4 separate regions of the Homo sapiens genome follow, and regions 1, 3 and 4 are each linked to region 2. Evidence: fine-mapped QTL for protein levels in blood plasma. A gene starts in region 2. Each other region holds a variant in brackets. All regions are shown on one strand. Distances are between the middles of the regions.

Region 1 (8,144 bases), 20 kb before region 2:
CTTAGCAATCAACCCATGAGATTCACTCATGCCGTGTGTGGTAATAGTCTCTTCTTTTTGGTTGCTGTGTAGTAGTCCATTGTATGGCTATGCCACCATTTAGCTACTCTTCTATCCATGGACATTTGAGTTACTTGTAGCTATTGTGAATAAGGTGGATATGAACATTTTTGCATGTATCATTTGGGAGCCATAAGCTCTCACGTCTGTTGAGTATTTACTGAGAAGTAGAATTGGTGGGCCATAAAATGAGCATGTTTAGTTTGAATAGATACTGCCCAGTTGTTTTCCAAAGTGAGCTGTGCCAATCCCACCAATAGTGCATGGGAGCTGTAGTTGTGCTACATCCTCATCAATGTTGGTGTCAGTCATCCTGGTACATAGTAGCATCTGGGTATAGTTTTAATTTGCATTTAACTGATGATGAGTGAGATTAGGCACCTTCTTATGTGCTTATTGGCATTTAGATAGCCACCCGTTACTTTTGAGTCATAGTTTCCTTTACAATGGGGCAAAGGGATCACGCCTTTCTTTTTCTCTTAGTTTCCTTAAAAATTCACCCTTGTCAATTTATACTTAATTACACAAGTATTGTATGGATACATTTTCATTGTTTCTTCACACCCTTGCTAACATTGGATATCACCAGACCTTTAAAGTGAGAAGAGAAATCAGTCTTACTGGTATTTTAATGGAATGTGCATTTCTCCAATTATTAGTGAGATTAAGTATTTTTTCTTATGTTTTTTGGACACTTGTATTTCTTCCATGTATTGCCTTTTCACATCCTTTGCCAATTTTTAAAATCAGGTTATTTCTCTTCCTCATTGATTCTGGAAGTTTTTTATACAGTCTATATAGGAATCTGTTATCTGTTATATATTGTAAATACTTTCTTTTCTTCTGTTGATTGTATTTTTATGTATTTATTTATTTTTTTCACATAGGGTCTCACTTTTTGGCTCAGGCTGGAGTGCAGTGCATTAAACAATAAGCTCTAATTCCTCCCCCTCCCAGCCCCTTGTAACTTCTATTCTATTTACTGTCTTTAAGAATTTGCCTATTCGAGCTACCTCATATAAATGGAATCATACAATATTTGTCCTTTTGTGGATATTAATCTTTTCATTTATTTATAGATTCTTTGTTTTTGTTTTTGAGACAGGGTCTTGCTCTGTTACCCAGGCTGGAGTGCAGTGGTACGATCATGGCTCACTGCAGCCTTGGCCTCCTGGACCCCAGCAATCCTCCCACCTCAGCCTCCTGAGTAGTTGGGACCACAGATATACACCACAATACCTGATTAATTTTTAAAATTTTTTGTAGAGACAGGGTCTCCCCCCATTGCCCAGGCTGGCCTAAAACTCCTTGGGCTCAAGTGGTCCTCCCACAGTGTTGGGATTACAGGCCTGAGTCACTGCACCTGGCCTTGATTGTATTTTTAAAAGACTTTTTTTTGTTTAGAACTGTTTCAAACTTACAGAAAAATTGAGAAGATAGTACAGGGTGTTCCCATATACCCATGGCCAATGTTCCCTTTGTTAACATCTTGCACGAGTAGGGCACATTTGTTAGAAGGAATGAACCAGCACTGATACATGATCATCGTGTCTCCTTGGGCTCCTCTAGCTGTGACAGTTTCTTAGACTTTCCTTGTTTTTGGTGACCTTGATAGTTTTGAGAAGTACCGCTCAGATATTTTCCCAAATGCCTATTTATTAAATTTGTCTAATGTTTTTCTCTTGACTTGACTGGGGTTATGAGTTTTTGAGAGGAAGTCCACAGAAGTAAAGTGCTGCTTTCCTCACATCACATCAGAAGTACATATGATCAACATGATTGATCACCACTGATGTTGACCTTCATCACCTGGCTGAGGTCGTATGTGTCAGGGTCCTCCACTCTAAGGTTACTCTTCTCCCCCATTCCATACTGTCCTCTTAGGAAGGAAGTCACTATGCTTACTCCACATTTAATGAGTCAGGAGTTATGCCTCACCCCCTTGAGGCAGAGTATCTGCATAAATTATTTGAAATTTATCAGTCCAAGGGACTTGTCTCTCCTCCCCCATTTATTAATTTATTCAATCATTTATTTGCAATAGTGAGGACTCAGGGGTATTTATTTTATACTTTGAATGATAATCCAGCACTGCTTTATTTTGTTGCTCAAATTGTTCCAGCTTTGGCCGTTGGGAGCACTCTCAGTTGGCTCCTGTGTTTCTTTGATGTAGCTCCATTAATATGCATTTGTTTTTTGATTGTTTTTGAGTGCCTCCTTATTTTCTGGCACTACAAAATACTCCAGGCTCCTCTTGCATATTTCTGTCAGAGGCATAGAATTGGCCATTTCTCCAAGGAGCCCTGGTACCTTTCACTGGAGA[G/T]TGTTATTAGAAACCAAGGTCTGGGTGCTAGGTATGCTTTTTGCTACTGGGGTGCTGTTTCTTTTAGTCCTTCTCAGATGACAGAGCAAGGAAATATTCATGTGTATACTAACCTGTGAATATCACATATCTATACATATTTCTATATGGAATCTTCTGCCCCTGTATTAAGCTAGACATGAGTTCATACTGATGCCTCCAACTCCGCTCTGTTACCAAGTGGATCATTCTAGCCTCCTCCCCTGGCTTATCTGTAAACTTGCATTCCAACAGTGAGCAACCTGGCTTCTACCATCCGCCATTTGTTTAATTAATTTTCGATTTCAGTATGCACGTATCAGAATTGTTAATGCATATCCCCATGAGAACAAACTTTATTAAATAGAGTAAGGTACAAAACTCATATGAGAGAAGAGGCCTTGGTGACTGACCATAGATGGGGTTATCTTAGCCTGCTTGTGTTGTTATAAAAGAATACTTAAGGCTTGGTAATGTATAAAGAAAATAGGTTTACTTGGTTCATGGTTCTGCAGACTGTACAAAAAGCATAGGACCAATACCTGCTTCTGATGAGGGCCTCCGGCTGCTTCTACTCATGGTGGAAGGGAAAGGTGAACCACTGTGGGCAGATCACATGGGGAGAGAGGAGGCAAGAGGAGGGAGGAGGAGGTTCTACACTCTTCAACAACTAGCTCTTGAGGGAACTAAGAGTGAGAACTCACTCCCATGAGGATGGCAGCAAGCCATTCATGAGAGATATACTCCCATGACCCAAACCTCCCAGTGGGCCCTACCTCTGACATTGGGGATGAAATTTCAACATGATATTGTCTTTGGAGGGGAGGCCAAATATCCAAACCATAGCAATGAATCTTATTTGCAGCTGGCCTGTGTTGGTTCAGTGCTTAACTCCAGTGGTATTTGGGAGTCTGGTAAAGACCCTCAGCCAAAATATTAATTGATTGTTCTTGCTGGTGATTTATAAGATGCTGTTTAAAGTCCAGAACTCCCTGGGAGGCATGCTTCAGCAGTATGTCTATATTATTTCTTAAACATATGTAGATTGATGATTTGCATTTGGTTTACATGTTTACCCAGCCTGATTTAAGCTACGTAATGAGTGGGGTATACAAAATCCCTCTGTAAGCTGTGCCTTAGCTTCCCAAGACCAAGGGATTACACACATATCAAGAAGAAAGTGCTCTTTCTCATGATATAGAAATATTTCTTCATGTTACTGATAATGCAATAAAGTGTATATGCTTCTGAGTGATTTGCTAATGTGTATGTCAGCAACACATTCAGTATCCAGAATGGCTTGAAGTTATGCCTTCAGGGCCAAAAATAACATAATGTTAAATTCTGTAGATTCAATAACAGAATTTATTAAGAAATCTGCACTGTGAGGTAAATGATTAAACACTGACTCTTTCTCAACATTAGATAATTCTTTTTATTCATCAGAGAAATGTGATTTATGACACATTTAAAAGCATGTTTAAGGCCGGGCATGGTGGTGTATACCTGTAGTCTCAATTACGTGGGAGGCTAGGGTGGGAGGATTGCTTGAGCCTAGTAGTTCTAGGCTTCAGTGCGCCATGATCACACCTGTGAATAGCCACTGCACTCCAGCCTGGGCAACATAGCAAGATCCCATCTCTAAAAAGAAATTTTGTTTTAAAGCATGTTTAAAACATACATACACCAGCCTGGCCAACATAGTGAAACCCTGCCTCTACCAAAAATACAAAAATTAGCTGGGCGTGGTGGCACGTGCCTGTAATCTCAGCTACTCGGGAGGCTCAGGCAGGAGAATTCCTTGAACCCGGGAGACAGAGGTTGTGGTGAGCTGAAATTGTGCCACTGTGCTCCAGCCTGAGCAACAGAGGGAGACTCTGTCTCAAAAAACAAACAAACAAACAACAAAAAAACCATACATAGAAATGTTCCAGTAGAATACAAAGAACCACTTTCTAGAACTGAATGCACCAGAGAGGATTAGAAACCCACTTATTCTCTCCCAGCTTCAAGTATTTAACGTTCCTACTTTTGCACGTGGCAGCCTTGCTGACTCAGATCCGAGGGCGTTGAAAGACAGATTCACAATTTCTGGTCCATATTTGATGCAAATATTTAGAACTATCTAGCAGAGCTTGCTGCCTTTCCAACAATCCAGTTAGTGAATTGAGAATGTTCTCATTTAATAGAAATGAAAGGTAAACGAAGGATCCACCTGGCCATGGGACTGGAGGAATGACCCAAGCCATGCTTCATAGAGGCACAGATAGACACCCTCAGGGAAGCCGAGACCCTTTGAAAAAAGGGCCTGGTGTGTGTATTTTCACACTGCCCCCTGCTGGCTGACACTGGAACATTGATTCTTCCTGCTGACACTGGAACATTGATTCTCCTGTGGCTCTAAGACGACCTAACAGGATGAGGCCAGCGGGCCCCCCGCAAGGAAACTTGAGCTAGAGGCAGTTGGATTTGGCTGAGACGCTCTCCTCAGGGAAGGCCAGGTCTGGGAGTGGGTTTGAACAGCAGTGGAGAAATAACTTCCATAGGGCATGTCAGAGTAAGTTCTAGTGTTTCCAAGAGAATGGGACAGGATCTTAGTGGAATTTAGAAGCCAGGCAGGTGGAAAAGCATTGAGGACCCCATCCCAAGGGCTCGAGTCCCTAGAGACAGCCTGGAAAGATTGGGTGCCAGCTGCAGAGAGGAGAGCAAGGCGACCAAACGCAGGGTAAGGTCTGGAGGTGCTCATAGTTCACTACGGGACATGTACATGGAAGTGAATAATTATGTCACAAGGTGCCAAGGGGGCTAGTTACCTCACATAGGATCTTAGAAAAGGTCTCCTGGAGACCATGTCTGAGCTGGTCCTGAGGTGTGAGTAGGGATTCTCCGCAGGGCGGGGAAGGACTTGAAAGAGTCTGGCAATATGGAGCACATCAGGATTATGGAAGGTGAGCTTGGAGAACAAGGCAGAGTCTAGCCTGTGAAAGGCCTCTTGCAATTTGTTGAGGATCCATGACCTTCTCCCATGCATGGTGAAATGCCCTTAAAGGATTTTGAATAGATTTAAAAGACACTCAAAAACAAAAAACGGTAGATTCAAAATAGACGGTAGGGATCGCTTTCTTCCGTTTTCTTTGAAGGATCAGAAGTGTTTACCACCACCTGGATTGTTTTTGGGCTTTCAGGTGAGTGGGAAAACAAAGAAATTCATGCCTGATCATGTTGAGCCACTTATATAATGTTGCTTTGACACTAATGGAGATGTAACTTCTTTTAAGACATAATAGAATCTCCTAAGTGGGTGTGGGAGTCGTAAGAAGGAGGAATCTGGGCTTCTACAAGCAAGATAGCATGTATTCATTTATTCAGTCAGTCAGTCGCTGGATCGATGCGCTTAGCTTTGTGCTCTGTGCTGGGTGCTGTGTGGGATATAAAAGAAGGTGAGGCCGGGTGCGGTGGCTCATGCCTGTAATCCCAGCACTTTGGGAGGCCAAGGCAGGTAAATCATGAGGTCAGGAGATCGAGACCGTCCTGGCCAACATGGTGAAACCCTGTCTCTACTAAAAATACAAAAATTAGCTGGGCGTGGTGGTGTGTGCCTGTAATTCAGCTGCCTGGGAGGCTGAGGCAGGAGAATAGCTTGAACCAGGGAGTCGGAGGTTGCAGTGAGCAGAGATTGCACCACCGCACTCCAGCCTGGCAACAGACGAGACTCCGTCTCAAAAAAAAAAAAAAAAAAAAGAAGCTGAAATTCCAGCTCTTATCCCCCAAGGAATCTGTACATCTGTACTCTGCTTGGGAATCCACAGAAGAAGGAAAGAATGCCAGCAAAGTAAGATCATGCTGCATGACCTCAAGATAGATGTTAAGGACATTTTGATGGGATAAAGGGAATCTTTGCTAGTTCAGAGATGAGCTTTACTGGCTTTGAGCTAAGTGATAGACATAAGTGGGTGGAGTGCAACTGGGGAGAATTTCAGGCCTGGGTAAGGGCCAAGTGTGAATGGATGGTCTCATGTAGGAAGCCATCAGGATAGGCATAGCAAATCCAGGAGTCCTCTAACGATGGAAGGAAGACCTTTGCTGATGTAGGAATCGCATTGCAGGTCAGTACTCCTCAGTGAACCTGGAGACCCTGTTGCTTCCTGTTCCCTACCTCAAGGCACTCAGTCTTACAACTTTGGGCTACCTCTCTGAGACAGTAGACTCTGGAGATACTAGCCATATCTTCATCTTTAACATTCACTCAAGATGAGCTGATAAAGCACCTCTTTCATGAAATAGCCCTATAATTTCTATGATTAGAAGTTGAAACTACTCTCATCACATCTTTTGATGTTTATATGAACACTCTTCTGTTAAAAAAAAGATTGCCCTAGTTTTTAGGGCTAATATTAGATGTTTCTGGCATATTCTTTACAAAGCCTTCAAACTAAGTTATGGTATAATATTTGCAATTAGAAAAACAAATACCCAAGGCATGTTTAGAGGTATTTATATGTTTTCTGGTGTCAATTGGAGGTGGAGAGGCCACCAGTGCTCTGAATCCACAAGCTAAGATGAGCTACTTGTTAGGCTTGGCTGTTTGGAATTGTCTGTTCTTTGCAAAAAGCAGACGAAATGAAGTTATGGTAGTTAGTGGGATGAGTGGGCCACCCAGAAAAGTCAAAGTTCAGGTTGGACTCATTTTCTCATGTATTTAAGTGTCTTTGCCATTTGTTTACCTTCTCCTGTGCCTCCACCTCTCATCATTAGGAGATGGGACCAGCATGCTCGGAAGCCCACTCAGCCTATGCACTCAGCAGGTTGGAACTATTAGGGAAGTATAGCCTTTGGGAGCTGTCCTTAACCAATGATGGACAGATCTTGGTGTATAAATTCCCCAGCTCCCTCGCCCTGCAGGCAGCATAACCCTGAGGAATATGTTCTACTCTGGCATCCAGGGGCCTCCCAAGCAGAGTGAAGCTCCGGTTGCCCATGCAATAAACATGCTAACACAGCCTTTTTGGGCTACCTTCCCTTCCCTTTTTCCATTCCCCACTTGCAGCATTTGCAGGGATCACCTCCCGAATAAACCACTTGTACATGAATCCTTGACTTGGCATCTAGTTCTTGGTGAATCCAGCCTCAGGCAATGAGTAACTCACATAGAGACGGCCTGCTATCTAAGTATAAGCGAAGATGAAGGAAGACTCTATTTTCTTTGGACCTGATCAAGTTTATTTACAATCTTCATTTTATTTTTATTATTTATTTATTTATTTATTTACTTATTTATTTATTTATTTAATTGAGACTGAGACTTGCTCTGTTGCCCAGGCTGGAGTGCAGTGGTGTGATCTCGGCTCACTGCAACCTCCACCTCCCAGATTCAAGTGATTCTCCTGCCTCAGCCTCCGGAGTAGCTGAAATTACAGGTGTGTGCCACTACACCCAGCTAATTTTTTGTATTTTTGTATTTTTATGGGGTTTCACCATGTTGGACAGGCTTGTCTCGAACTCCTGCCCTCAAGTGATCCACCAACCTTGGCCTCCCAAAGTGCTGGGATTACAGATGTGAGCCACCACGCCCGGCCTACAATCTCGATGTTAGACTTCACTTATTTTCTTCTGCTCTGTAACCCAGTGTGGACTGCAGTGGTGCAATCATAGTTCACTGCAGCCTCAAATTCCTGGGCTCAAGCAATCCTCCTGCCTCAGCCTTCTGATTAGCTGGGACTACAGGCATATGCCACCACACCCA
Region 2 (8,144 bases):
TGCTAGGGGCTGAGAATGGAGTGACGGAGAAGCCACAGTCCCCCATCTATCAGAACGCAGGCACATACCAGGGCGCATACGTGAGAGCGGCATTTGCAGTGCGAGTGCATCGCCGCTCCTGGGCACCTTCAGAACACGCGTGGGTTTGGGGGAGAAGAGCTGGGTCACTTGCCAGGATTTGCTCGCTGCTGCACTCTGTACTGCCAGCCTCCTGGCAAGCTTATTTCACCGTGAGCCAGATCAAAGCCAGAAGGCAGAGGAGCACTGGCTGGTGCATGGTGACCCGAAGTCCTGCGCCCCTCTCCAACCAAAACTCGCAATGCTTGAGGGAGCAGAGCTCCTGGACCAGCCGCCAGAGCACCTGCTGGTGGAGCTTGTTGTCTGGCTTCTGGAACTCCCCCTGGTTCGCCGCCTGGGTGGCATTGATGCAGCCGGTGACAAATGCCTCCTTGGTCACATTAGCCTCAGAGCAGCCGTTGTAGTGGATGCCATCGGGGAACTGCCAGTAGTTGGCCTCGTAGTACCTGTTGCCCTCGGCTCCGAAGTCAATGTCGAGCTTGCGGCCTTGCTTGATGAAGGCTCCCGGGCGGTTCTCAGCCACCTGGGCCTCAGTGATCTGGGCAGTGCTGGGCAGGGCCTTCCGGTTCCACTTGATTCTGTGCTTGATGCCCCTCGTCTGGACCGCAGAGAGGTGGCTGAAGAGCAGCATGCAGACAGTGGCCAGCCACCACCAGCTCAGGTGCTTCCTCATCGCGTCAGAACCTGCCAGAGAAACGGCGGTGGGTCAGCTCCCCACCAGGCCTGCCTGGGCTCCCCTGCCCCCTCCCAAGTGCAGGAGATTTTAAGGAAGGAATCGCATCCTTGTGCTATTTATGTGGTCTCAAAAGCATAATTGTTTCCCCATGTTTGGGTTGTGCAGGGTTAACTCAAACACCGAGCTCCTTTGCTATTGCTAGGATTACATTCACTCAGGGCTCTGGTCCCGGTTTCCGAGACAGGTAAGAATGGCAAAGGGCAATTATAGTGGCTTTGAATACGCATGGGAAAATAAAGGAGTGGTGACTTAATACATGTAGGTTTTCTTTGATACTCCCAAGTCTTTCAAATCAAGAAATCCCTGGGAGGAAAATACAATAGAAGAGTTGGAATCAAATGCTGGTGGGCATGGACTATATGTGTGTGTGTGTGTGTGTGTGTATACACGTATATATATACACATATATATGTATATATACACGTATATACACACACATATATACATATATACACACATATATGTATATATACACACATATATATATACGTATATGTACAGACACACACACATACACACACACACACACACACACACACACACACACACATATTTTAGAGACAGGATCTCACTCTGTTGCCCAGGCTGGAGTGCAGTGGCATGATCATAGCTCATTGCAGCCCTGAACTCCTGGGCTCAAGCAATCCTCTTGCCTCAGCCTCCGGAGTAGCTGGGACTACAGGCACACACTACCACACCCAGCTAATTTTTAAATACATGTTGTAGAAACGGGGTCTCACTATGTTGCCCAGGCTCAAGTGATCCTCCCACCTCAGCCTCCCAAAGTGCTGAGATTACAGGCACGAGCCACTGTGCCGACTTTAGATTGTACTTTCAATCTCCCCTCTTTGTTCTTTATTGCTCTGAGCTGGCACTGTCTTGGGGGCATTCTGCCATCCATTCTGAGGAATTCACTGGCTGCTGATCCTAAAGGGCTTTGCAGTAATGAGAGAGAGAGGAGGAGGAAGGAAGGGAAAGATGGAAACGTAGCAAAGGGACCCCTGCCTCCCCTATGTCCAGGGGTCAAGTGTGCTCCAGGCATCCTTTCCAATCTCACCCCTGGGGGACAGTGTGACCATCTGCTTATCCTACTGGCTTTTTATTGCATACTTTCTTCATGCCTGCCACCGTGTTAAGCTCTTCTCTGACATTGCCTAACTTAATTCTCACATAGAGTAGGTACATTATTATCCCCATGTTATAAATGTTGTCCTGGGATTCAGAGAAGTTAAGTAATTTGCCCAAGGCTGCACAGCGGGGAGGTGGCAGACCTGCACTGGGCTCTGTCTAATGCTGCACTGCATGTGTCCACTAGCCATGCCCCACTGCCCATCTGGGTTTCAGGAGAAGACAGTGCTCACACACTGTGCTTTTCACTCACTGGGTATGATGCCCCCTGAGCTGGGCAAAGGGCAAAGGGCAGGGCCCTTGAGGAATTTCGGAGAAAACGAGATGAAAGGGAAGACAGGAGGGCCTGGGGGAACACCAGGAGGGTCCCGGGTCAAGGTGGCCCTGGGACATCCGAAGGGCTGCCACTGATGTCATGGAAAAGCCCCTCACCCCACACCTTAAGGTTGCCTGTCACATTCGGCTCCTGAATCTACAATAGCCATCAAGGAAATCCACTTCCCAAGGCCGACTGTCAGGGCATTCTAGCACCTGGGTCTTTGCCTGTGTGGATTAGGGAAATGGAAGGAGTTCCCATACCGGAGCTTGCCTAAGCTGTCTCCTAGGCAAAGACTTACTGTGAGGCCATGGGGCCCCAGAGCTGGAGGAGGCTGACAGGGAGCTTGTTTCGCCCCTCACACACCCTCCACCACCCTGCTGCAGCTTCCCTAAAAGTGGCTAATGTTCCTCTGATAAAATGTTCAACTCTGATGCCACATTGCTCCTTATATTAAAAAAAAAAGGCAAAACACAGCTGAAGTGATCTCTAGAAGCACATCCAGTCATCTCTAGAAGCCTGCAAAGAGGCCTCACTGACCTTTCCTTGCTTGTAGACATCGCCTCGTCTTTGTCCCAGGGTGGCTATGAGCATCTGGACCCCCTCACCCCACTCTCTCTGCCTCCTGAGCACAGTGAACTCAGACTGACTTTCTCCAAAGAGATCCAAGCATGAAGCAAATATTCATTAGTCTCCTAAATAGGGCCATACTCCACATCATTCCTTTTTTAAGGAGAAATCTTAAATAAGATTAATGGCATAATAGATCATTTCAGGTGAGTCAAATAAAAAAAATAAAAGCACAGCATTCTTGAGAAAGAGATTAGTTTTCATAGGCAGAAGCTTAAAGGCAAAACAAAATCCCAACCCACAAACCCTAAAGTAGCATTTTATTATAGCACCAACTTAGAGAAAGGCAAGCCCAGTGATGACTGGGTATCCTCGCAAGTCTACCCTGAACTTGGGACCCATCCCCAGGTGTGGGAGTAAAGAAATCATTGCATGATTTTCAATCTGGGATCGAGCCTTGATAAGAAACCAGCAGTCCTGACCACAGAAGTGGCCCCCCACGTACCTTGGCTCTCTCTGGAGTGTGCCTCTGGAGCCTCGAGCTGCACAGTCCCCCAGCACACCCTCTTGGCAGCCAGGTCCGCCCAGCTATATAGGAGCTGCCGGGGGAGGTGGCATTCCTGCAGGTCTCCAAATAAGGCAGCCCTTCCCTCCCCGGCAGACCAATCAGGGCTTCCTGGACCACTCCTTCATCCTGAGAAGGATGGACCTTCTCATCACACTTTACTAAGGAAACCACGTGAAAATCTTGATGAAGTTCAGCAAGGCTTCAGAGGTGCCTTTTAGAATTGGAATGAGATGTGTTAGAAGGAAAATGCTTTTCCCATCAATATCTATGACAGATGTGGCTTCAACAAGCCTCGCTGGACATGCATAGTGTCCTGTACCTAAAGGCCGGCCTTGGACAGCAAAGCAGTCTTTGCTGACAGCCTCTGTGGGGAGGTTCAGCTCAAAAAGAGGGCAAGCGTTCACCTGGACCACCACGCCCTGAGGATGGGACCAACAGGGTGTGTGTGTGGTGGTGGGGGGGGGGGGCGCCGGGGGGCGGTTACACTTTCATCGGGTAGTGGGAAAACAGAACTGGTAGGTATGGGGTGGAAGACACGTGAGAAGACTTCCTGGCATGTTGGGCGAGGAATGCTTGAAGGACTGAATTAGCCCAAAGGCCAATAAGTTAAAGATCTGCGGGAACCCCGGGAGCAGAGACACATTGACACGCAGCCAGTCCCCTGGACAGGTGGTGCGGGCTGAGGGCGAGTTCTGCAGAGTGCCTTCTCCTCTACATGGTGTCCGAGCGCTGCGCAGAAGGGGCTGGAGGTGCATTCCTGGGCTTTCCAAAGCAAGAGACTCATTGGTATTGGGTGACCATTTTGGGCCTTATACAGAAGGGACTTGCTCAGGTGTCCCTGTTACAGTTAGTACTGCAAGGCAAAGTCAAAAGTGAATATGGGAGCAAGTATGGGGCCAGATTTTCCTGTAAACAGAATGCGATTTTTATGCTGAATGTGACCCCGTCAGTGTTCACGGTGGATTTGCGTCAGAGCAATTTTGCAAACCAAATTAAACGGTTGTTATCGAGAAGGACAGCAGATAGCGCCAGAGAGCTGACAAAGACCGCAGCCGGTCGGTGGGAAACCCGGGCTTCTGGGCTCTGGGTGGATTTGGGGCCTCCGGTTGGGCCTTTCTTTCTCCTCTGACTTTAACATTTGTTTCACTTCCCCACTTTTTTTTTTTTAAGAACTTTTCTATTTCCTTTCTAGAACCACAGACTTTTTGTGCTTCTGAATACACACAAAACAGAAACACAGTAGTGTAATCTTAGTACAGACTGTTTGCAAAATGGAGATGAAAAAATCAAAATCTCCTAATAGTTCAGTACCCAGAGACAAATGTCAGGACAATTTTGTTTCACATATAGATACTTAGGGCCACAGTGTTTAGAGCTAGAAAGGACTCAGAATTCTGTGGTCCAGCTCCTTTGCATGGTGAGCTCACAGGCCCAGATAGGCTCAAGGTCACCCAGCCAGGCCGGCAGTGCAGCCTCGGCAGGCTCGTTGTCCCATTGTGAACTCTGTGCACTATCCCCCTGCCTGTTCCCACTAGACACAATCATCTCCAACCCCCTCCACCCCTCTTCTTCCTATTCCCTTTCTAAGCAGGACTTTACCCAGAGAATGGTGGGAGGTTGGTTTAGAGCTGACGTGGCAGCAGATTCCTCTTGTTAGTGAACAAAAGGCTGTTTACAAAGGCACAGAGGAATGGGGAAGACTGAAATTGCTACAGAAGCAGGGAGGAGCTCTGGAAGCTGCAAACAAGGCAAGAAAACAATAAGCAGATGTGGAGAATGTGGAGCCGACCCAATGCTGCCTCGCATCCTCCCTCCCTGCCTGTAAAGATCGACAAACAGACCAAGGAATTAGTGTGAGAACATTCATTTCTTCAAAAGAACTGAGAGACCAGGGCCAAGTGAATTACACTATGTTACATAAAGTGGATTATATTATATAGTCTGGGAAATAGAACTGTGTGTAGATCATCTTTGAGAAAGCAGGAAGAATGAGATGGAGACCACAGATCTGGGTGTTCTATGATGCAGGGGTCTATGACATAGTTCTCTAGATCGCGTAAATAATAGAAAATTATGCCAGTTTCTAAAAACGCAACAGGGAATGGCTGAATTCTAGAATGCATGAATGGGTCATTATTTGATCAATTTCCAGCTTTGATTAGACCTTGGACCAGTTTGAGAGCATTTATAGGTGAATACAGTGATCGTTTGGATATAACCTAGCAGGCCAAATTAACTATACCAGGGAGATTACTGTTTGGCAAGATTACCAACCATATTTGTGCCAGGAAAAGAAGAACACAAGAAGGATAAGCCAGGTTCCATTGCTGGCCCATGGCCTAATGGTAGAGAAATCGCTGAAATGTGATTTGGAAAATAATACTTATTTAGCTGTGTAGCTACCTAAACAGCTGTTACAGTCTGAATGCTTGTGTCCCTCAACAACTCATATGTTGAAATTCTCACCCCCGAGGTAATGGTAATGGAGGTGGATCTTTGGGAGGTGATTAGGTCATATGGGTGAAGCCCTTATGATTGGGATTAGTGCCCTTATAATAGAGGCCTGAGAGTACTCCCTTGTCCCTTCTGCCATGTGGGCACACAGTGAAAGATGGCCATCTATGAACCACAAAGTGGGTTCTCACCAGACACCCAATCTGCTGGCACCTTGATCTTGGACTTGCCAGCCTCCAGAACAGTGAGAAATAAATGTGTGGTGTTTATAAGCCACCCAGTTTATGATATTTTATTATAGCAACCTGAATGGACTAAGACAATAGACATACTTAATTTTTTCTTTTTATTCAAGTCTGAGATCCACACAAAGGTGCACATATTTGCAATGTCCAGCATTATGGTTTTTTTTTTTTTTTAGATGGAGTCTCACTCTGTCACCCAGGCTGGAGTGCGGTGGCGCCATCTCGGCTCACTGCAACCCCCGGCTTCCAGGTTCAAGCGATTCTCCTGCCTCAGCCTCCCGAGTAGCTGAGACCACAGGCATGGGCTACCACACTCGGCCAATTTTTTGTATTTTTAGTAGAGATGGGGTTTCACCGTGTTAGCCAGGATGGTCTGGATCTCCTGATCTCGTGATCCACCCGCCTCGGCCTCCCAAAGTGCTGGGATTACAGGCATGAGCCACCACACCCGGCCCAGCATTATGTATTTTTACAAACCAAATACACCATTGTAACCTGCACCTAGATTAGGAAACTGAGCATGACAGCACACTCCAAGCTCCTCATGGCCTCTTCACGCCACAATTCCCTCCCCTATGCTGACCACTTTTCTGAGTCCCATGCCATAGATTAGTTTTGCCTGGTTTTGTATTTCATATACATAGAATTATATAGAATATAATCTTCTGTGTCTGTGTTTTGCTCGAATTACGTATTTGAGGTTCACCCACATTGTGTGTAGTTATAGATCATTCATTCCATTGTAAGAATATTCCACAACCTACTTATCCATTTCCCTGTTGATGGACATTTGGGCGGTTTCTCATTTGGGATCTTATGAATAGTGTTGTCATGAATATTCCTGCATGTTCTTCTTGGTGCCCATATTTCTGTTGAATATATACTCAGGAGTAGATTTGCTGGGTCATAGAATATGCCTATTTTTCAGCTTTTACTATTTTAGAATTTGGACTATGGCTTTTTTAAAATCTTAAATTCACCCTCCTTTACGGTTTGCCCACTCTTCTGCTCCCAAACCCAGCCGCGAGTCTCCATGTGGTTCCTTTGCCACTTGGCACAGAGCCTATTACTGTAGTCACCGGAGCCTCCCATTCACACATTCTGCTGAGCTCATAGAAGTTGAAGGACTGTGTTTCATTCACATGTGTTTGCCTGGCACCTAGCACAGTGCCTGGAATCTAGATGCATCTAGATTCCCTTTATCCCTTGTTGATCGGTGACGGTCCACATCGCAGTTGGTTGGAATACACAAAAGCAGCAAGAGCAAATTTTACAGGGATAAGGGAGACAGTTTTACAGTTGTTGCGGTTGTCTTTTAAATCAAGGGCAGCATGTTGAAGACCCGTCATGGTGGTAGTTGAGATTCTGTGGTATAGAGTTGTTTAGAAGCAGAAAATGAGCCCAGAGGGTGGCCACAGCTTGGAGAAGCAAATGCTGTGCTAATCCATGGATCATTTCCCCTGCAGTTCTCTGCCCTTCCCGGTCAGAGTGCAGTTAGTGTTTGGAACTTGGCTGTGAGCAATTGACTCAGGGCAGGGATTGGGGTGGAGTATGGGGAGGATGGGAGGGAGGTGAGGAAGGGTGGGAGATGAGGAAGAGCAGTGGTCCTTCTGGCTCAGCCGGGACCACTGAAGCAGTTCTTCCTCTCGTGCGGGAATCACCCAGTGTATGTGGGACAGGATGTTTGTAGGTGAGAAGGTAGAAGATGGGGAGCCACTGAAGGCTTAGGGCAGGTACAGGATGAAGGCTGTGTTTTAAGGTGATCTGTCTCTCGGGTTGTCCAGAAAGGAGAGGCCCAGGAAAGGGCAGAAACTCCCACCTGCAGACCCAAAGAAGGGCAAAGAATGCCAGACTCAGCCACCACCGAGTTCCTCATTTAGCCTCCCCATCACTTTGCTCCTCGTCTGCGATGTTTTTAAAAGCATAATTAACCTGATAAGTTGGTCTGCAGTTTGTCACTCTCCCTAAATACACAGGAAAATGTCCAAATGGAGAAAGGCCTCCCCCAGGACGAGGCTACCTGGACCAGATGACGGTCCAGCTTTTACT
Region 3 (8,144 bases), 30 kb before region 2:
AACTACAAAACACTGCTGAGAGAAATCATAGATGACACAAACAAATGGAAACACATTCCATGCTCATAGATGGGTAGAATCAATATTGTGAAAATGACCATACTACCAGAAGTAATCTACAAATTCAACTCAATCGGCATCAAATAGCACCATCATTCTTCACAGAATTAGAAAAAACAATTCTAAAATTCATATGGAACCAAAAAAGAGCACACATAGCCAAAGTAAGACTAAGCAAAAAGAACAAATCTGGAGGCATCACACTACCTGATTTCAAACTATACTCTAAGGCCATAGTCACCAAAACAGCGTGGTACTGGCATAAAAATAGGCACATAGACCAATAGAATAGAATAAAGAACCCAGAAATAAACCCAAATACTTACACCAACTGGTTGTCGACAAAGCAAACAAAAACATGCAGTGGGGAAAGGACACCCTTTTCAACAAATGGTGTTGGGATAATTGGCAAGCCATTTGTAGGAGAATGAAACTGGATCCCTATCTCTCACTTTATACAAAAATCAACTCAAGATGGATTAAGGACTTAAACCTAAGATCTGAAACTATAAAAATTCTAGAAGATAACATTGGAAAAACCCTTCTAGACACTGGCTTAGGCAAGTATTTCATGACCAAGAACCCAAAAGCAAATGCAATAAAAACAGAGATAAATAGCTGGGACCTAACTAAACTAAAGAGCGTTTGCACAGCAAAAGGAACAGTCAGCAGAGTAAACAGACAACCCACAGAGTGGGAAAAAACAATCTATACATCTGACAAAGGACTAATATCCAGAATCTACAATGAACTCAAACAAATCAGTAAGAAAAAAACATGGCCAAGGACATGAATAGACAATTCTCAAAAGAAGATATACAACTGGCCAGCAAACATGTAAAAAAATGCTCAATATCACTAATGATCAGGGAAATGCAAATAAAAACCACAGAGCAATACCACCTTACTCCTGCAAGAATGGCCATAATAAAAAAATCAAAAAAACAGTAGTGTTGGTGTGAATGCAGCGATCAGGAAACACTTCTACACTGCTGGTGGGAATGTAAACTAGTACAGCCACTATGGAAAACAGTGTGGAGATTCCTTAAAGAGCTAAAAGTAGAACTACCATTTGATCCAGCAATCCCACTACTGGGTATCTACCCAGAGGAAAAGAAGTCATTCTTCGAAACAGATACTTGTACACGTATTTTTAAAGCAGCACAATTCACAATTGCAAAATCGTGGAACCAACCCAAATGCCTATTAATCAATGAGTGGATAAAGAAACCGTAGTACATATATATGATGGAATACTACACAGCCATAAGAAGGAATGAATTAACAGCATTTGCAGTGACCTGGATGAGATTGGAGACTATTATTCTAAGTGATGTAACTCAGGAATGGAAAATCAAACATCGTATGTTCTCATTGATATGTGGGAGCTAAGCTGTGAGGACGAAAAGGCAAAAGAATAATATAATGGACTTTGAGGACTTGGGTGGAAGAGTGGGAGGTGGGTGAGGGATAAAAGGCTACAAATATGGTGCAGTGTATACTGCTCACGTGATGGTTGCACCACTCACAAATCACCACTAAAAAACTTAATCATGTAATGGCCGGGTGTGGTGGCTCACACCTGTAATCCCAGCACTTTGGGAAATCAAGGAGGGTGGATCATGAGGTCAGGGTTCGAGACCAACCTGACCAACATGGTGAAACCCCATCTCTACTAAAGATACAAAAATTAGCTGGGCGTGGTGGCAGGCACCTGTAGTCCCAGCTACTCAGGAGGCTGAGGCAGGAGAATGGCATGAACCCGGGAGGCGGAGGTTGCAGTGAGCCGAGATCGCACCACTGCACTCCAGCCTGGGTGACACAGTGAGACTCCGTCTCAAAAAAAAAAAAACAAAAAAAAAAACTTCCTCGTGTAACCAAACACCACCTGTACCCCAATACCCCAATAACTTATGGAAAAATGAAAATTTAAAAAATGCGTGTATTTTTATTTTTATTTTTATTTTGAGAGACATGGTCTCTCTCTGTCACTCAAGATGGAGTGCAGTGGAGTGATCATAGTTTACTGCAGCCTTGGACTCCTAGGCTCAGCCTTGAACTCCTGGGCTCAGCCTTGAACTCCTAGGCTCAGCCTTGAACTCCTGGGATCAGGTGATCCTCCTGCCTCAGTGTCCCAAAGTGCTGGGATTTCAGGTGTGAGCCATTGCCCCTGATCTAAATGCATCTAAAATAATTTAGAGAAGTGCCTTGGTGGGGACCATGCAAGTGGCAGAAATGATTATTTTTTTCAGTATTTTTTTCAGTTTTACTTAGACTAAAACTGTCACAAAAATCCTAAGAGGCTTAAGCGTGAGTGCAAAAAAAAAAAAAAAAAAAAAAAAAGATGAAGATAGTCCTGTTACACAAGTGCAAGAGGGTGAGAAGATGAACCATTAAAATGAATGATATTTAAAAGTACATGTATGTAATGTTATACATAAGCATCAGCACATATTGAGAATGCTCACTGAGTGGGTGTCCAACCTGAAAAGTTTGGAGAACACTGCTTCTGAACCTGGATGAGGACCAGCGAGCCTCAGCACAGGTGTGGGCTTCCTTTTGCTCCTCTCCTTTGATTTACTCTACTGCCCTTTGGGTTGGTAAGGACCTCAGAGGTCAACAGCCTTGTCCAAAGTTACACTGGTGCTCATTGGCCAAGCCAGGACTCTTCACTCCAAAGGCAGCTCCCAGCTGCTTTCCTGTCTGCCCCATTCTTCTTGGAGGTATGAAGAGGGACCCCAACAACCTTTGCACCTTGTCCACTGGTTACCTTCTGCAGCCCCCACCCCCTTAAAGAATAAGCAGGTTTTGGACAAGGGGAATTTGGAGCTGGGTCCTGCTCTGAATTTCATCAGTTCTGTTGTGTCCATAGTAGAGAATGCCTCACATGGTCCTTGTCCCAGTCAGGGCCATGTTCATGGGCTTTTTCTTCTGCCCTGGATTGGGAAGTGGCTGTTGTAGTCCTTAGGACCATGTCCAAGCAATTGCTAACAAGTAGGTGTGAAGTTGCCCATTGATTAATAAAAGACTCCATCGTTAAGCAAAAGTTTGTCTATATCTGAGTCCATATTCAACAAAAGCCATATCTGAGTCCAGGTGCAGTGGTTCATGCCTGTAATCCCAGTGCTTTGGGAGGCCGAAGTGGGCGGATCACCTAAGTTCAGAAATTTGAGACCAGCCTGGCCAACATGGTGAAACCCCATCTCTACTAAAAATACAAAAATCAGCTGTGTGTGGTGGTGGGCGCCTGTAATCCCAGCTACTTGGGAGGCTGAGGCAGGGGAATCACTTGAGCTCAGGAGGCAGATGTTGCAGTGAGCCGAGATCACACCACTGCACTCCAGCTTGGGCAACAGAGCTAAAAAATAATAATAATAAAAAAATTAAAAAGCCATATCTGAAAAGCCAATTGCTGTCATGATGGTTTTATAGGACAATTGTCATCTAGAGGTAACACATGGGCTTCCAGTCTAGGAGTTCATTCAATGTATAATAAAGGGCCCCAACCATGTTGGCTCATGCCTGTAATGCCAGCAGTTTGAGAGGTGGAGGTAGGAGGATTGCTTGAGCCCAGAAGTTCAAGGTTTCAGTAAGCCGTGTTTGCGGCAGTGCACTCCAGCCTGAGTAAAAGAGTGAGACTCTGTCTCTAAAAAAAACACAACAAAACAAAAGTATAATAAGGGACTTGTTGAGCATCTGTCACATGTCAGGTACTGTTCTAGGTGCTGTGGATACCAGGTTCCTGCTTGCTCATTCTAGTGGAGAGTGGAGAAACAAAAATATTCATCATGAATCACAAATCGTGGCAGTTGAATGACTGCCCACATTTTTTTATCCATCCTCCCTGTGGACACAGGCCTGCCTGGCCTCACTATGGATGGAGGGCATTTCCCCACTCTTTGAGTTTGGGCTTGATCACAAGGATATGCTTTGGCCCATAAAATGTGGTAGAAAGGATGTTGTGTCTGTTTTGAGCCTAGGCCTTGAGAGAGCCTAGGCCTTGAGAGAGTTCACATCTTTCTGCTTGCTCTATTGTTCCTCTGTTATTACCATGAGAAAAACGGGCCCAGTCTCATCCCAGCAGGAGGTTGAGAGACATGTGGAACAGAACGGCCTCCCCTGACCCACAGCCCTTCCATGAGGAGCACAGGTGCCCAGCTGAACCCCAGCCAACCTGCAGTTGTGAGTGATAATGAATGCCTGTTGTTTTTAACCATGGAGTTTTGAGGTGGCTTGTTACACAGCGATAGCTGACTGATACAAGAAGAGAATGGCGAACTGGAAACAGATAATGATGCAGTAGCAGAAGGAGCCTACTTTAGAGAGAATGGCCTGGAGAAGCCTGGTGAGGAGCTGACATTTAGGCTGAGATCTGAAGTTTGAGAAGGAGCTTGTCACGTAATGCAGGGAAGGGAGTGGAAACAGACAAAGGTCCTGAGGCTAGAAGGAACTTGTTGTGTTTCAGGAACTGACAGAGAAACTGCATGGCTGAAACAGAGTTTGTCAGGGAAATAGGGGTCTAGTGACCTTGTAGAAAGGCACAGGGCTTTTGAAGCCAGTGCAAGAGTTTGGATTCTATTTAGGTACAATGGGAAGTTTTTGAAAAGTTTTAAGGAGAGAGGGTGAGTCAGATTTTAGACTTTTAATAGATTATTTCTGTTCCTGTGAATGGAAGCAGGAACATCAGTTAGGAGGCTGTCGTAGACATCCAGATGAAAGATGATGGTAGTGAGTAGAAGTTGCTGAGAACTGGATTAATAATGCATTTTTGAGTGGGTATCATAGGATCTCAAGATTTCTGGCTTGGAGCGTGATGGAAAACTATGTCAGTTACCAATTCCTTTCCCCCAAAAAGCCATCCCTGGAAATCTAATGGAGAGAAAGGAAGGTAGATGGTGGGTTGGGCATGTGGCATTTGACTGTGAGCACACATACTGCATCAGTGCAGTAACTCATATTGTGGAGCACTCACTATGTTCTAAGCACTGCATTAAACACTTGGCATTCTCATACCAACTCCATGAAGCAGGTCAAGATCTCTACCTTACAGATCAGGAAACAGAGAGACCACGAGGATAAGTGACTTTCTCAAAGTCACACACAGCTGGTAAGAGAAGCAAAGTGTTCTGGGGCCTGGCACAGTCTCTGTCATGGCCATGCCCCAGAGGAGTGCCTCAGGTATCTGAATGGTGTTGCAGTTTGCCGTTGCAAGGCTTTCAGTTCTGAGCAATGGCCCCCAGTACTGTGGCACCAGAGCTTGGATACCTGGATGCTCAAGGCCCCTGAGTCCCTCTCGTGTGTAGGCTCATGGCATAAACCTTTCGGAGTCCTTGTCTACATATTCCTGGCCCCAACTTGCAAGCTTAGCTTTGCTCCCAGCTATGGATGGTGGCTGATGCACTTAAGAAACCTCTTTCTTGGTTAACACATGATTCCCCAGACTTAACATCTGCTTTTCAACAAGAGTTTTAAAGCAAATGGAAAAAAAATCTTGTCTTTTGGACCCAAAGTTTTAAGTCCCCTTTGAGATCTGGGAAGTCAAATTCTCGGGCTAGTGCCTGGTTTGATGGTGACGGGCATGGGAGTCTCTTGCATTTTTTAGGCATATTCCCGGGAATGGCTTTCTTCCCCCACTCCAACACAATGAGCTCTCAGGCCAGCTGTAACATCTCTC[C/T]AGGGGTCCTCTGATTTTCCTCCTTCTCTTTGTTCAGTCAGTTTCCTTTCCTGCCAGCTCCCATTCTTCCCACCAGCAGGAAGAGAGGACAAAACCCGGAGCCAAAGCTTCCTTCAGCTGGCCCGCACCATGCCCTGGACAGCTCTGAGACATGCAGAGAACAATGGAGCCCTGGAGAGCCTGGGGCCGGCTTCCTCTGGACAATCTTCATCCTCACCTGATGTTTTTGCTGAAGTCACTTTGCTCTCATGGAAAGGTGTTGGCAGTTGTGCCTTGGGGGGTGAGGTTTCCCTGTGTCCATATGGAGAGGGACCTTGTGTGCTAAGAAAGGGGAGGAAAGTTCGTGAACTTGAAATTCTCAGTATACTGCATCCCTGGTTCTTCGATCCCCCAAACAAGAGGGCAGAGCTCAAGGCCAGCCAGGTCTTGCCTTTCCCTGGCCTGTACCTAGAGACGAAGGTCCCGGCCCATATGGCCTCAGCCCAGGCTGGAGGCCAGTGCAGAGGCTCCTGCCTCTCTCTGCCTGAGTTCTTTCTCTGGTGTGCTTGGAGCCACCCTTACCCTGTGAGGCAGGGCTGTTGGTCAATAAAGGCTCCAGCTCCCTTGCTACTTGGTGGGCAGATTCTGAGGTGTGTCCTGTGGTGTCTCAGTGGGTCCCCAGGGTGGGTGGCACAGTGCTCCTCCCCACACTTCCCATCTCCCTTCTCCCTTCCCCATGTGCTCCCATGCAAAGCACTTGCATTCAAATCCTTGTCTCAGGCTGTGCTTCTGGGGAAAACCCAATCTTGGAAAAGTGCTGCTAGAGATCTTGTTTCTACTGGTAGTTATAGAGGGCAGGGGATGGTCATTTTGAGTGACAAGAACAAGTTGAACATCATAGAGATTTCCTTCAAGAATGAACAAAGCGTGGCTGGGGACAGTGGCTCATGCCTATAATCCCAGCACTGACTGGGAGGCTGAGGCGGGCGAGTCCCTTGAACCCAGGAGTTTGAGACCACCCTGGGCAACATAGTGAGACCCCATTTCTACAAAAGACAAGGAAAGAAAGAAAAAAGAGCAAAGTAGTTTGTAGCTCCAGTGGAACAGCCTGCTTCTTGCTTTTTAAATTTTTATTGAAGTATCACTTCCATGCAAGGAAGCGCACACATTTTAACTGTATAATTCAGTGAAATTTTCCATGTGTCTATGACTAGGTAGCTACCACCTGGAACAGGATGCATTTTGAACACCCTTGAAGTCTTCCTTGTTTCTCTTCCGAGATGAGGACCATCCTCTACCAGTATTTGAGCTTCCATCTCTATGGATTAGCTTTGCCTTCTCTTGAATTTCATTCAATGAAATTTTGGTTTTCTGGGGCCACTGTAACACATAACCACAAAGCATGTGGCTTAAAACAACCGAAACTGATGCTTTCAGAATTCTGGAGTTTGGAAGTCTGAAATCAAGGGGTCAGCAGGGCTGTGCTTCCCCTGAAGGGTCTAGGGGAGGATCCTTTCCTGCCTCTTCCTAGCTCCTGGTGGCTCCTGGCAGTCCTGGGTGTACCTTGACTTGTAGTGAAATCATTCTCCAATATCTGTCTCCATTATCACATGGCCTCATTCTCTGTGTCCTCTCCTCTTGTTATAAGAACCCCATTCATTAGATTCAGGACACATCCTAATTCAGGGTGGCCTCATCTTAATTTAGTTACATCTGCAAAGACCCCACTTCCAAGTACAGTCCCAATCTGAGATTCTAGGTGGATGTGAGTTTTGGGGAGATGCTATTCAACACCCTATGGAAATCATACAGCGCATGCCCTTGTGTCTGGCTTCTTTGGCATCATGTGTGGGCTCATCCATGCTATTGCACGGGGCAGCTGTTCACTCCTTTTCTTCCTGTGGAGTGTTCCATTGAGTGTCTATGCCACAAATTATGCATTTAGCCTGCTGTTGATGGACTTCACCTTGTTTCCAAAACGCGGCTATGATGACAGACCTGCTGTGGACATTGTTGTCTGTCTTTGGGTTGACCTAACACCCTTTCCCATAGGTCTTTACCTAGGACTGGAGCTGACAGCCTGTCTTTGCAGGTTGGTAATTAAACTCTGCAGGATTTTGGGGCTCCATTAGCCATTTCTGTCAGTGGGTGGAGGGAGAATCCACGTTGGGTGCATATTTGAATGAGCTGTTCCTCCCAGACTCCTGACTGGTGAAGGTCAGGGGAGGGGACTCCGGGCAGCTCCAGATCCCACTTGATCGTTCAGCATCTGAGGAAGACGCCCAGAGAAGGAGCCTCTCCCAGAGCTGCAGTGAGCCCTTTTCAGCAGGGGCAACTGGGCCCTCTCCTTAGCCAGGCGTGGCTGAGGTCTTATGGGAACCTGCAGTGCCTCACTGAGAGGAGAAGGTGCCCTAGATGTTCTCTTCCTAAA
Region 4 (8,144 bases), 110 kb after region 2:
CCTTGCTGCTGCCACATGAAGAAGGACATGTTTGCTTCCTCTTCCACAATGATTGTAAGTTTCCTGAGGCCTCCCCAGCCCTGCTGAACTTTGAGTCAATTAAACCTCTTTCCTTTACAAAAATACACAGTCTTGGGTATGTCTTTATTAGTAGTGTGAGAACAGACTAATACAGAAGGAACGCTCTACAGAGAGGCCAAGAGGAATCTAACAGACAGCCTTCATGGGTTTCCCCACTCAGCCTATTAACATTAGATCTTATCCTCTTTGTCCCCTTATATTTCTACATAGCTGCCCGTAGTTTGTTGAACCTAAGCATAAAAATGGCCAGTTTCCCTATATCTTTGGGTCTTCATTTTGAAGGCTCCTGGGTGATACAAACTATGACCAAATAAGTTTGTTTGTCTTTTCTCCTAATGAATCTGCCTTCTGTCAGTTGATTTTCAGTGAACCTTCAGAGGGCAAAGGGGACATTTTCCCTAGGCCCCTGCAAGGCCGAAATTGGAATGGTGTATCTGTAAGCCAAGGAACTCCAAGGATTGCTGGTTGTTACCAGAAGTGTGGAGCAAATTCTCCCAGAGTCCTGAGAAAGATCAACCCTGCCGGCACCTTGATTTCAGACTTCTAGCCTCCAGAGCTGTAAGGGAGTAACTCTATGTTGTTTTAAGCAACAAAATAGTTTGTGGTACTTTGTTACAGTAGCTTTAGGAAATTAGTACAATTGGGAACTAGTGACCTGGTATGCTTAAACATGGGAGAGACAAACAGACATACAAGATGCATCACAAACTCAAAGTCAGGACAACCCGTTTTCTAGGCACACATTCCCATAATGGGACAGAGAACTGAGAGCAAAGTCTAGGAGGTGTAGAGACTGGTCTGGAAGCACCTGGATGCTTGGTTTCAACTGCCTGCCCTTGAGTGGGCCACATGGCAACAAGCATCTCCCCGTAACAATGATGGACTAAGGTCAGATACTCCCTTCTGTTGGCTGGGCAAACAGCAACCCTTACATTACAAATGGTTGGGATGAAATATTTACCCAAATGACATTGCTCAGTGTGGGGTTGTGGCATAAGGCAGCTATCTCATTTATTAAAGCTGATTTACATGGACTGATTTTGGCTTCCACAAAGAAACCATGAGGTCCTAACTGTAGTACCTCCAAATGTGACCTTATTTGGAAACAGGGTCACTGAAGATGTAATTAAGTTATGAAAGTTACTTTGGAAAGTAACTTCAAATGAAGAAGTAGGGCAGGAAAAATGTGTCCCCTAACCACCATCAAAAACAGGAGAATGTACATGTATTTCATCCGTTACATTTTTTTCCACAAGTATTTTTGCTTTGAATCCTCACTTTAGAAACTGTTTCTCCTGAAAGCTAGGTGGCATTTCAGGGTCACTCTCTGCTAACAGGTGAAGGCCTGTCACAATTTATTACTATTTCAGTTAAAAGATTCACTCAAATAAATCACAGAGATTCTTAAAGTTGCTACAGAATCAGGGCACTTTTTGGGTTCTAACTTGGAGGGAGGAATTCAAGACCACAGACCCCACTTTGATGTAAGCATTTACACAGAACTTGGATCTGACTCAGAAAATTTTAGGACCACCTGGGGCAGATGGAAGAAAGTATTTAATGAGCACCTACTGTGTTCCAGGACCCATGGTAGGTGCATTTCACGGAAATCACATCTGTTACCCTGTGGTCCTGTGGCAGAGACATACAAAGGGGGTCGTTTCAAATGGAAAACATCTAGTTAGTCTGCAATGATCCAAACAAAAATTTTAAAAGAACACGATAGTTCCTTCTCTTAGAAGCCCAAAATCCACTTTCTTGGAGTCTAATGAAATGAGCCCTTTTTTTTTGGAAATGCAGTGACTCCAGGGTCTCCAGGCAGGAATAAATCTTGGCTCTGAGTAGATCTTTCATCCCCTGTAATGAATTCCTCAGGCCCTGCCAGTCCGAGAGCAGCAACGGCTCCCTGAGAGGCCTGTTCTCAGGACAGAGTTTCATTGTATTCAACACTGTGATCTTCCTGCCAAAAATTAATCCCACAAGCCACATCTTGAACAACACCCCCACCCCCACGCAGTCTGAGCCTCCCTCAGACTTTTGAATTTGAAGAAGTTGGAAAGATTTGGAAAGCGGGGGTTACTTTCTTAAGCAGGACAGATGCATTGAGACCACCTTGCCAATCATAAATAGAAGACTGGCTTCAGTTCCTCGGTCATAATTAAGCAAAACCACAATTGTTTCTCAACAAGCCCCTGACTGTTGTGTTCTCTGTCCAGGTGGCCGGATCACAAGACCCCAGGTACTTTTAAGGAAGTGGACTGGTCATGTGTGTGTCCTCTATATCATCCTTTTTGGCTCTCATTGTCGTTGTGTGATTAGTTACGGTATCATGACAAGACCTGGGGAGAGCGAGGTCACCTTCTGAGATAAAACACTCAGCAAGTGCCCCCCAGTGGTGGTGGTGGTGGTGGTTTTTAATTGACAAATAATAGCTGTATATATTTACAGGTTGCACTGTGGCTAGAGGACATTATGCTAAGTGAAATAAGCCTCCGGCAGTTGCTAGAACAGGTGAGGCTCTGCGGGTTCTCAAATAACAGTTACTATTTATATGTCCCTGAAGAGTCTTCCGGATTTGGGAGCTGCGGGTGAACGGTATGAGCAATCGTAAAAAATCTGAGCAGCTGCAACTTCCACCTTGCCTGGGCCTGGCTCCATCCTGCAATATCTCCCTCCCAACCTCTCTCCTTTATCTGTCCCCCATCCCTCCCCATGCCAGAGTTAGGGGCTTTGCATGATACTGTTCTGCCTAGTGCTTGCTTTGCTGTTAAACTTCAGTCAACCTGAATCGCTGAATCCCTGGAGAAATCGAGTGGTTAAAATCTCAACATGGGAATTTTAGGTCCTTGTCAATCACATTCTAATTTTGACCTGGGCAGGTGTGATGCGTGGGTCCTTCTCTCCCTCTGCCCCACCCAGATACATCATCCCAAACTAGCACCAGGCTGACACCCACTCAAATACCTCTAAAGTTACATAATTGTCTAAATATAAAATCCAGACTCTCTGGCCTGGCATTCAAACTTGCCTACTCCCAGCCCTTCCCCAGAAGACACCCTAACGTACCTTCCAATGGTCTTTCCCACTTATTATTTATTTATTTATTTATTTATTTATTTATTTATTTATTTATTTATTTTTGTTAGCCGGAGTCTCGCTCTGTCACCCAGGCTGGAGTACAGTGGCGTGATCTTGGCTCACTGCAACCTCCGCCTCCCGGGTTCAAGTGATTTTCCTGCCTCGGCCTCCGAGTAGCTGGGACTACAGGCACCCGCCACCACGATCGGCTAATTTTTGTATTTTTAAAGAGACGGGGTTTCACCCTGTTGGCCAGGCTGGTCTCGAACTCCTAAACTCCTGA[C/A]CTCAAGTAATCCACCCACCTCGGCCTCCCAAAGTGCTGGGATTACAGGCATGAGCCACCACGCCTGGCCCCACTTACTCTTTATTTTTGAAAATCACACTGCTTTTTCAAAAGTTACGAGAGACATGTTAGTTGCCAAACCCAAAGCACTAAGTTCTAGCCTCTGTACTGATTGGTGCCAGGCACCTGCTGGCCTCTCCTGCTTTCCTAAACATCTCCCTGCCTTTCCTCCCACTCCACCATGCTCTCCTGGCTCTTTAAAAGCAGCTCCACTCTGTTGCCTTTTCTCTAACCCCTCTTCCTTCTTCTGTTCATTTAACTTGGATTTCATAAGAATCCTAATGACCCTAGCTGCCATTCCCTGGGCTCTGCCCTGGTGCCAGGCATTGAAATCAGGGCTTTACACACACAATCTTATTTAATTCTCATCATTGCCCTGTATGGGAGTTTCTATCATTATGCCCAATTTACAGATTAAGAAATTAAGGCTCAGAGAGATTCAGCAATCTACCCAAGGTCACACAGCTAGTTAGTGACAGAGCGGGGCTCAAACTCAGGTATGACACCATAGCTGTGGTGTTCATTACCACCCTGGAGGCTGTTTGGCCTCCTTTCCTCTCCCCACTCCTCCTGTCCAGTTTCTTCTCCTCTTTTCCTCCCTCTACTCCCCTCCCCTCTTCTCTCCACTTGCAGTCCTCTTCCCTTTGGAAATCTCATGGATCTTGGAGCTTTGCACTGCTGCCTGAATGACCTCCCCTCAAAGCTCAACCTTCAGCCTCCATTTATTGCTTGAGCTCCAAACGCATCCCCATATTTACAGCTTTCTGATGATCACCTCTTCCTTCGTGAGCCTTGTAGGTCCGAAGATAGCCCCTCACCTCCTCTCTCCTGCCTTGCCCCAAGACCCTGCTTTCCTAGCCAGCATCACTCTCCTCCTGCTCACCTAGACTCAAGGCCTCTCTTTCCCTTGGGTCACCTTTCCCTCCCCACCCCCACCCAGTTCACACACCTCACTGGTCCTTCCCTTCCGCCTCTCAGTGGCTCAAATGTCTTTCTTCCCCTCCATCCCACCTCCATTTGGCTATGTCAGGCGTGGGTACCGCTTATTTCCATCACTGCAAGGGCCTTTGGTTTTAGAGCCTGTTTTCCTAACTCACATAGCGATGTCAAGTAACTTTCCATGAGCTGGAGCTCAGATTGAATTCATAAAAGCTAACTCTTACCTAACATGAAATGGCAGGCCCTATTGCAAGGGCCTTACCCACTCAGTCCTCACAACAACCCTAGGAGGTAGGTACTGTTGTTATCCCCATTTTGCAGGTGGGAAACTGAGGCTCAGAGAGGCATGGTCACTTGTCCTAGATTCCACAGCTAATAGGTGGCAGTTCTGGTATCTGAATCCAGGCAGCCCAACACCAAAATGCCTGCACATAACCACTACTCCCAACTGGCTCATGTCACACCCCTGCTCAAAACATTCAGTGGCTCCCCATGGCCATTCTTGAGGCCGCCAGCTCTGTGATGGATAGTATCTGTGTGCCTGGAGGGACAGAACTGGCTCTTGGAGGAGTTTGCATTGTGCCAGCCCTAGACATTGTGCATCAGTGGCATAGGCAGAGGGGTTCTTGCAATTTGCCAACCAGCCAAGTGAATCGATTGTCCTCAGTGGGGTCCTGTTCCCAGAAGGGGCAGCAAGCGAGGGAGGGAGACACAGATAAGTTGTCCATTTCACATTTATCTCAGGGAGTGAGAGTTGAGATAGGGTCTCCTCGTACCACTGGTGTGGACAGAAAGAGCAACAGGGCAACAATGAACACTGGTGGTGGCCCTGGGGAATTTGGCCTTGCAGGGTGAAGTAATCATAATGTATGTTGCTTTTTAAAGGGGTGCCCAAGGAGCGCCCTGTCCTCAGACCTCCCTCGCTCAGGGATGTTTACCTGGAAGAACGAGAGGGCCCGATAACAAAGACATTGGGTTCTCGCCTCCAGGCCTCGAGACTGACTCTGTCCTAGCTGCTGTATCTTCAGGGGCTGAGGATGTTGAGAAAGTCAGAGGGAGGTTACCCAGGATAAGATAGAAGGCTCCAGACTACACAAGCCCTATTCTTTTAGAGTGAGCGGTGCAGAGTCCACGCATGAAGGTTTAGAGGCAGATCTGTGGTCCCTGAAGGAGGGATGAGTGTCCAGCTAGGACCCTTAGTGCTGGGGAGATTTCTGGGGGAAATCTCAGGGTGCGTTTTGCAAAGGACCCACCTTCTCTGGCATGAATGCCTGCTGTCAGAAGAGCTTGCTGTCTTTGGGTATCCATAAGCAGGGTCCATTCCCAGCCATGGCCCCTGTCCCCCAAGCCCAGTGACAGGGTCAAAACATCCACATCCTCAGGGAGGGCCTAACACAAATGAGAAGGACTGGCTGGAGGAGCAGTGGGTGCAGGGATTCCTGAGACATCATTGGCTCAGTGTGGCCAAGGGAGGCCTCAGAAGATGTTTTACATTTTTATTTTCTTTCTTTCTTTCTTTCTTCCTTTCTTTCTTTCTTTCTTTCTTTCTTTCTTTCTTTCTTTCTTTCTTTCTTTCTTTCTTTCTTTCTCTTTCTTTCTTTCTTTTTCTTTCCTTCCTTCCTTCCTTTCTTTCTTTCTTTTTCTTTCTTTCTTCTCCTTCCTTCCTTCCTTCCTTCCTTCCTTTCTTCCTTCCTTTCTCTTTCTTTCTGTTTTTTCTTTCTTTCTGTTTTTTCTTTCTTAGACCAAGTCTTGCTCTGTTGCCCAGGCTGGAGTACAGTGGCATGATCTCAGCTCACTGCAACCTCCATCTCCCCGGTTCAAGCAATTCTCCTGTCTCAGCCTCCCGAGTAGCTGGGACTACAAGTACACACCACCATGCCTGGCTAATTTTTGTATTTTTAGTAGAGACAAGGTTTCACCATATTGGTCAGGCTGGTCTCGAACTCCTGACCTCAGTGACCCACCCACCTCAGCCTCCCGAAGTGCTGGGATTACAGGCATGAGCCACCACACCCAGCCTAATTTCATTTTTTGATTGAGGTGAAATTCACATAACATAAAACTAACCATTTTAAGGTGTACAATCCCATGGTGCTTAGTACATCCACAAGGTTATGCAACCACTACCTCCATCTATAAAGGTTTTGAGGCTCCCTAGCAGGGCCAGGGCAGGTGCAGGAGCTGCTGCTGAGGGAAGGGAGCGAGGTTGTCTGCACGGGGAGTGAGAGGCAGGCCTCGGAGGATCTAGTAGACATGGCTTGGAAGAGGAATCCAGATGTGGGGTGGGTAAGAGTCACAGCCTTGAGTGCGGAGAGGTTGCTGAGGGAGAGCAACCAAGGCAAGTAAGAAGACCTCCAGCGGAAGCCAAGAGCCCCTTATGTTAATGGGAGGAGGAAATGGGCCAGGGCCAGAGGCTGCCAGCCTTCCACACAGGCCCAGGGAGGTGTGCTTTGAGACCAGCCTTTCTTCCCTCTGTTGTGGCCTGAGAAGTGTTGGGGGAGGAGGGTGCCAACTGGTGGAGGGAATTTCTCAGCTGCTAGGGATGGCTGGGCTACTTCCTGCCAAGGTCCTTTCTTCTTCTCTATTTCCCCAGCTATAGGGGACCCCACCACTGACTTCATTCTTCAAACTTTCTTTGAACAGGGATGCGCTTTGTAAGCCCTGCAGAACAACAGTAGTCCCGGTAGTTCTTGCAGTCAGGAGACCTGCACCTGCCCCAGGTGTCGGACTTTGAGGTTCCTAACTGGCGTTTCCCCCAGGGTGCGAGGGGCCCATCAGCCCAGAGCACATCTGGCCAGAGCTTGCCCTCTTCCTTCTGCCCCTGCTCTGGGTGCCTGGGATGCTAGAATTCCCAGCCCCAAAGCCTTAAGCATGCTTTCCAGGACCTGCCATGGCTGCCTCCCAGGGCCTGTCCTCCCAAGGGGCCAGCACTATCCTTGTGCACAGCCCTCGGCCCGAGGGGGCCCAAGGGTCAGCGTTCTTGTGGAGGGTGTGGATAGAGCTGGGATGTGCAAATTGGGGTATCTTTTGTGCGGTGCCCCTCAGAGGTTGGATGAGGGAAGTGGGCAGCTGGGGGCTTCTCCCCGGGCTGCCGTGTCCTGGTGTGGAATTCTGAGAGTCCAGCAGCCTTGCAGGGCTTCATGAGGGTGTATTTGTTAATGGAGGAGGATAGACATGTTTTATTTAATAGTCTGTTAGGTGTGTTTATCATTGTAATTATCTAGATATGTGGTAACTGCTCACTGATCATCTCGCCCTGTGCCCTGTCCATGTCAGGAGGGGCCCTGCCTGCAACCTCCTCACCAGGCTAGACTGTGATGGTTCCAGGCATGATTTTGAATGTGTTTCTTCACCTTAGAGCCTGCAATATGGTGATAGGGAATCCTTTCTTAGAAGAACAAACCTGCATGATGAGCTCGGTAAGTGATAGTTTGGTCAACCTTCCTAGCTCCTCCATCACTCCCTTGTACAGCACCTTTGTTGGAGGGCCAGGAATACAGACTTGTGTGTGTGTGTGTACGTGTGTGTGTGCATGTGTGTGTGCACATGCATGTGTGTGTGTATGCATGCATGTATGAGTGTGAACAGTTTCCCCCACTTTCGCCTAGGAACCCATTGTGTGTGCTCACATGGTGATAAGCCCTTGTGAAATCTCTAGAAATCCTCATCCAGCCTCAGGCTTAGATTCCAACTTGCCGGAGGA

Which allele goes with the higher level. Positions count from the first base shown, and alleles are read on the strand shown. Strength reflects both the effect of a copy and how common the allele is.
As copies of T replace G in region 1, the plasma level of the protein whose gene starts at base 3,394 in region 2 goes down (moderate association).
With allele T in place of C in region 3, the plasma level of the protein whose gene starts at base 3,394 in region 2 is lower (weak association).
For the plasma level of the protein whose gene starts at base 3,394 in region 2, A is the high allele of the variant in region 4 and C is the other (weak association).

The links. PIP is the chance, under the fine-mapping model, that this variant and not a neighbour inherited with it causes the effect. The UK Biobank Pharma Proteomics Project read protein levels with antibody pairs (Olink). The fine-mapping took linkage between variants from a reference panel, not from the people measured, so its PIPs are less certain.
Region 1: its variant is fine-mapped to the plasma level of the PRND protein (UK Biobank, PIP 0.97).
Region 3: its variant is fine-mapped to the plasma level of the PRND protein (UK Biobank, PIP 0.94).
Region 4: its variant is fine-mapped to the plasma level of the PRND protein (UK Biobank, PIP 0.91).

The regions. Positions count from the first base shown.
Region 1 is chr20:4,737,582-4,745,725 of GRCh38, reverse strand. It overlaps PRNT (prion locus lncRNA, testis expressed), which reads left to right and starts at 5,058. Exons shown (of 2, transcript NR_024269.1): 1 at 5,058-5,126. The variant G/T (reference allele first, on the strand shown) is at 2,384.
Region 2 is chr20:4,717,159-4,725,302 of GRCh38, reverse strand. It overlaps PRND (prion like protein doppel), which reads right to left and starts at 3,394. Exons shown (of 2, transcript NM_012409.4): 1 at 3,334-3,394; 2 at 1-762. The coding sequence starts at 751. The coding sequence ends at 221. RefSeq lists an enhancer at 4,472-4,691.
Region 3 is chr20:4,746,691-4,754,834 of GRCh38, reverse strand. No RefSeq gene overlaps it. Among named protein-coding and RNA genes, the nearest start is that of PRNT, 10 kb to the right of the region's middle. RefSeq lists a silencer at 5,678-5,972. The variant C/T (reference allele first, on the strand shown) is at 5,735.
Region 4 is chr20:4,608,329-4,616,472 of GRCh38, reverse strand. No RefSeq gene overlaps it. Among named protein-coding and RNA genes, the nearest start is that of PRNP, 74 kb to the left of the region's middle. The variant C/A (reference allele first, on the strand shown) is at 3,443.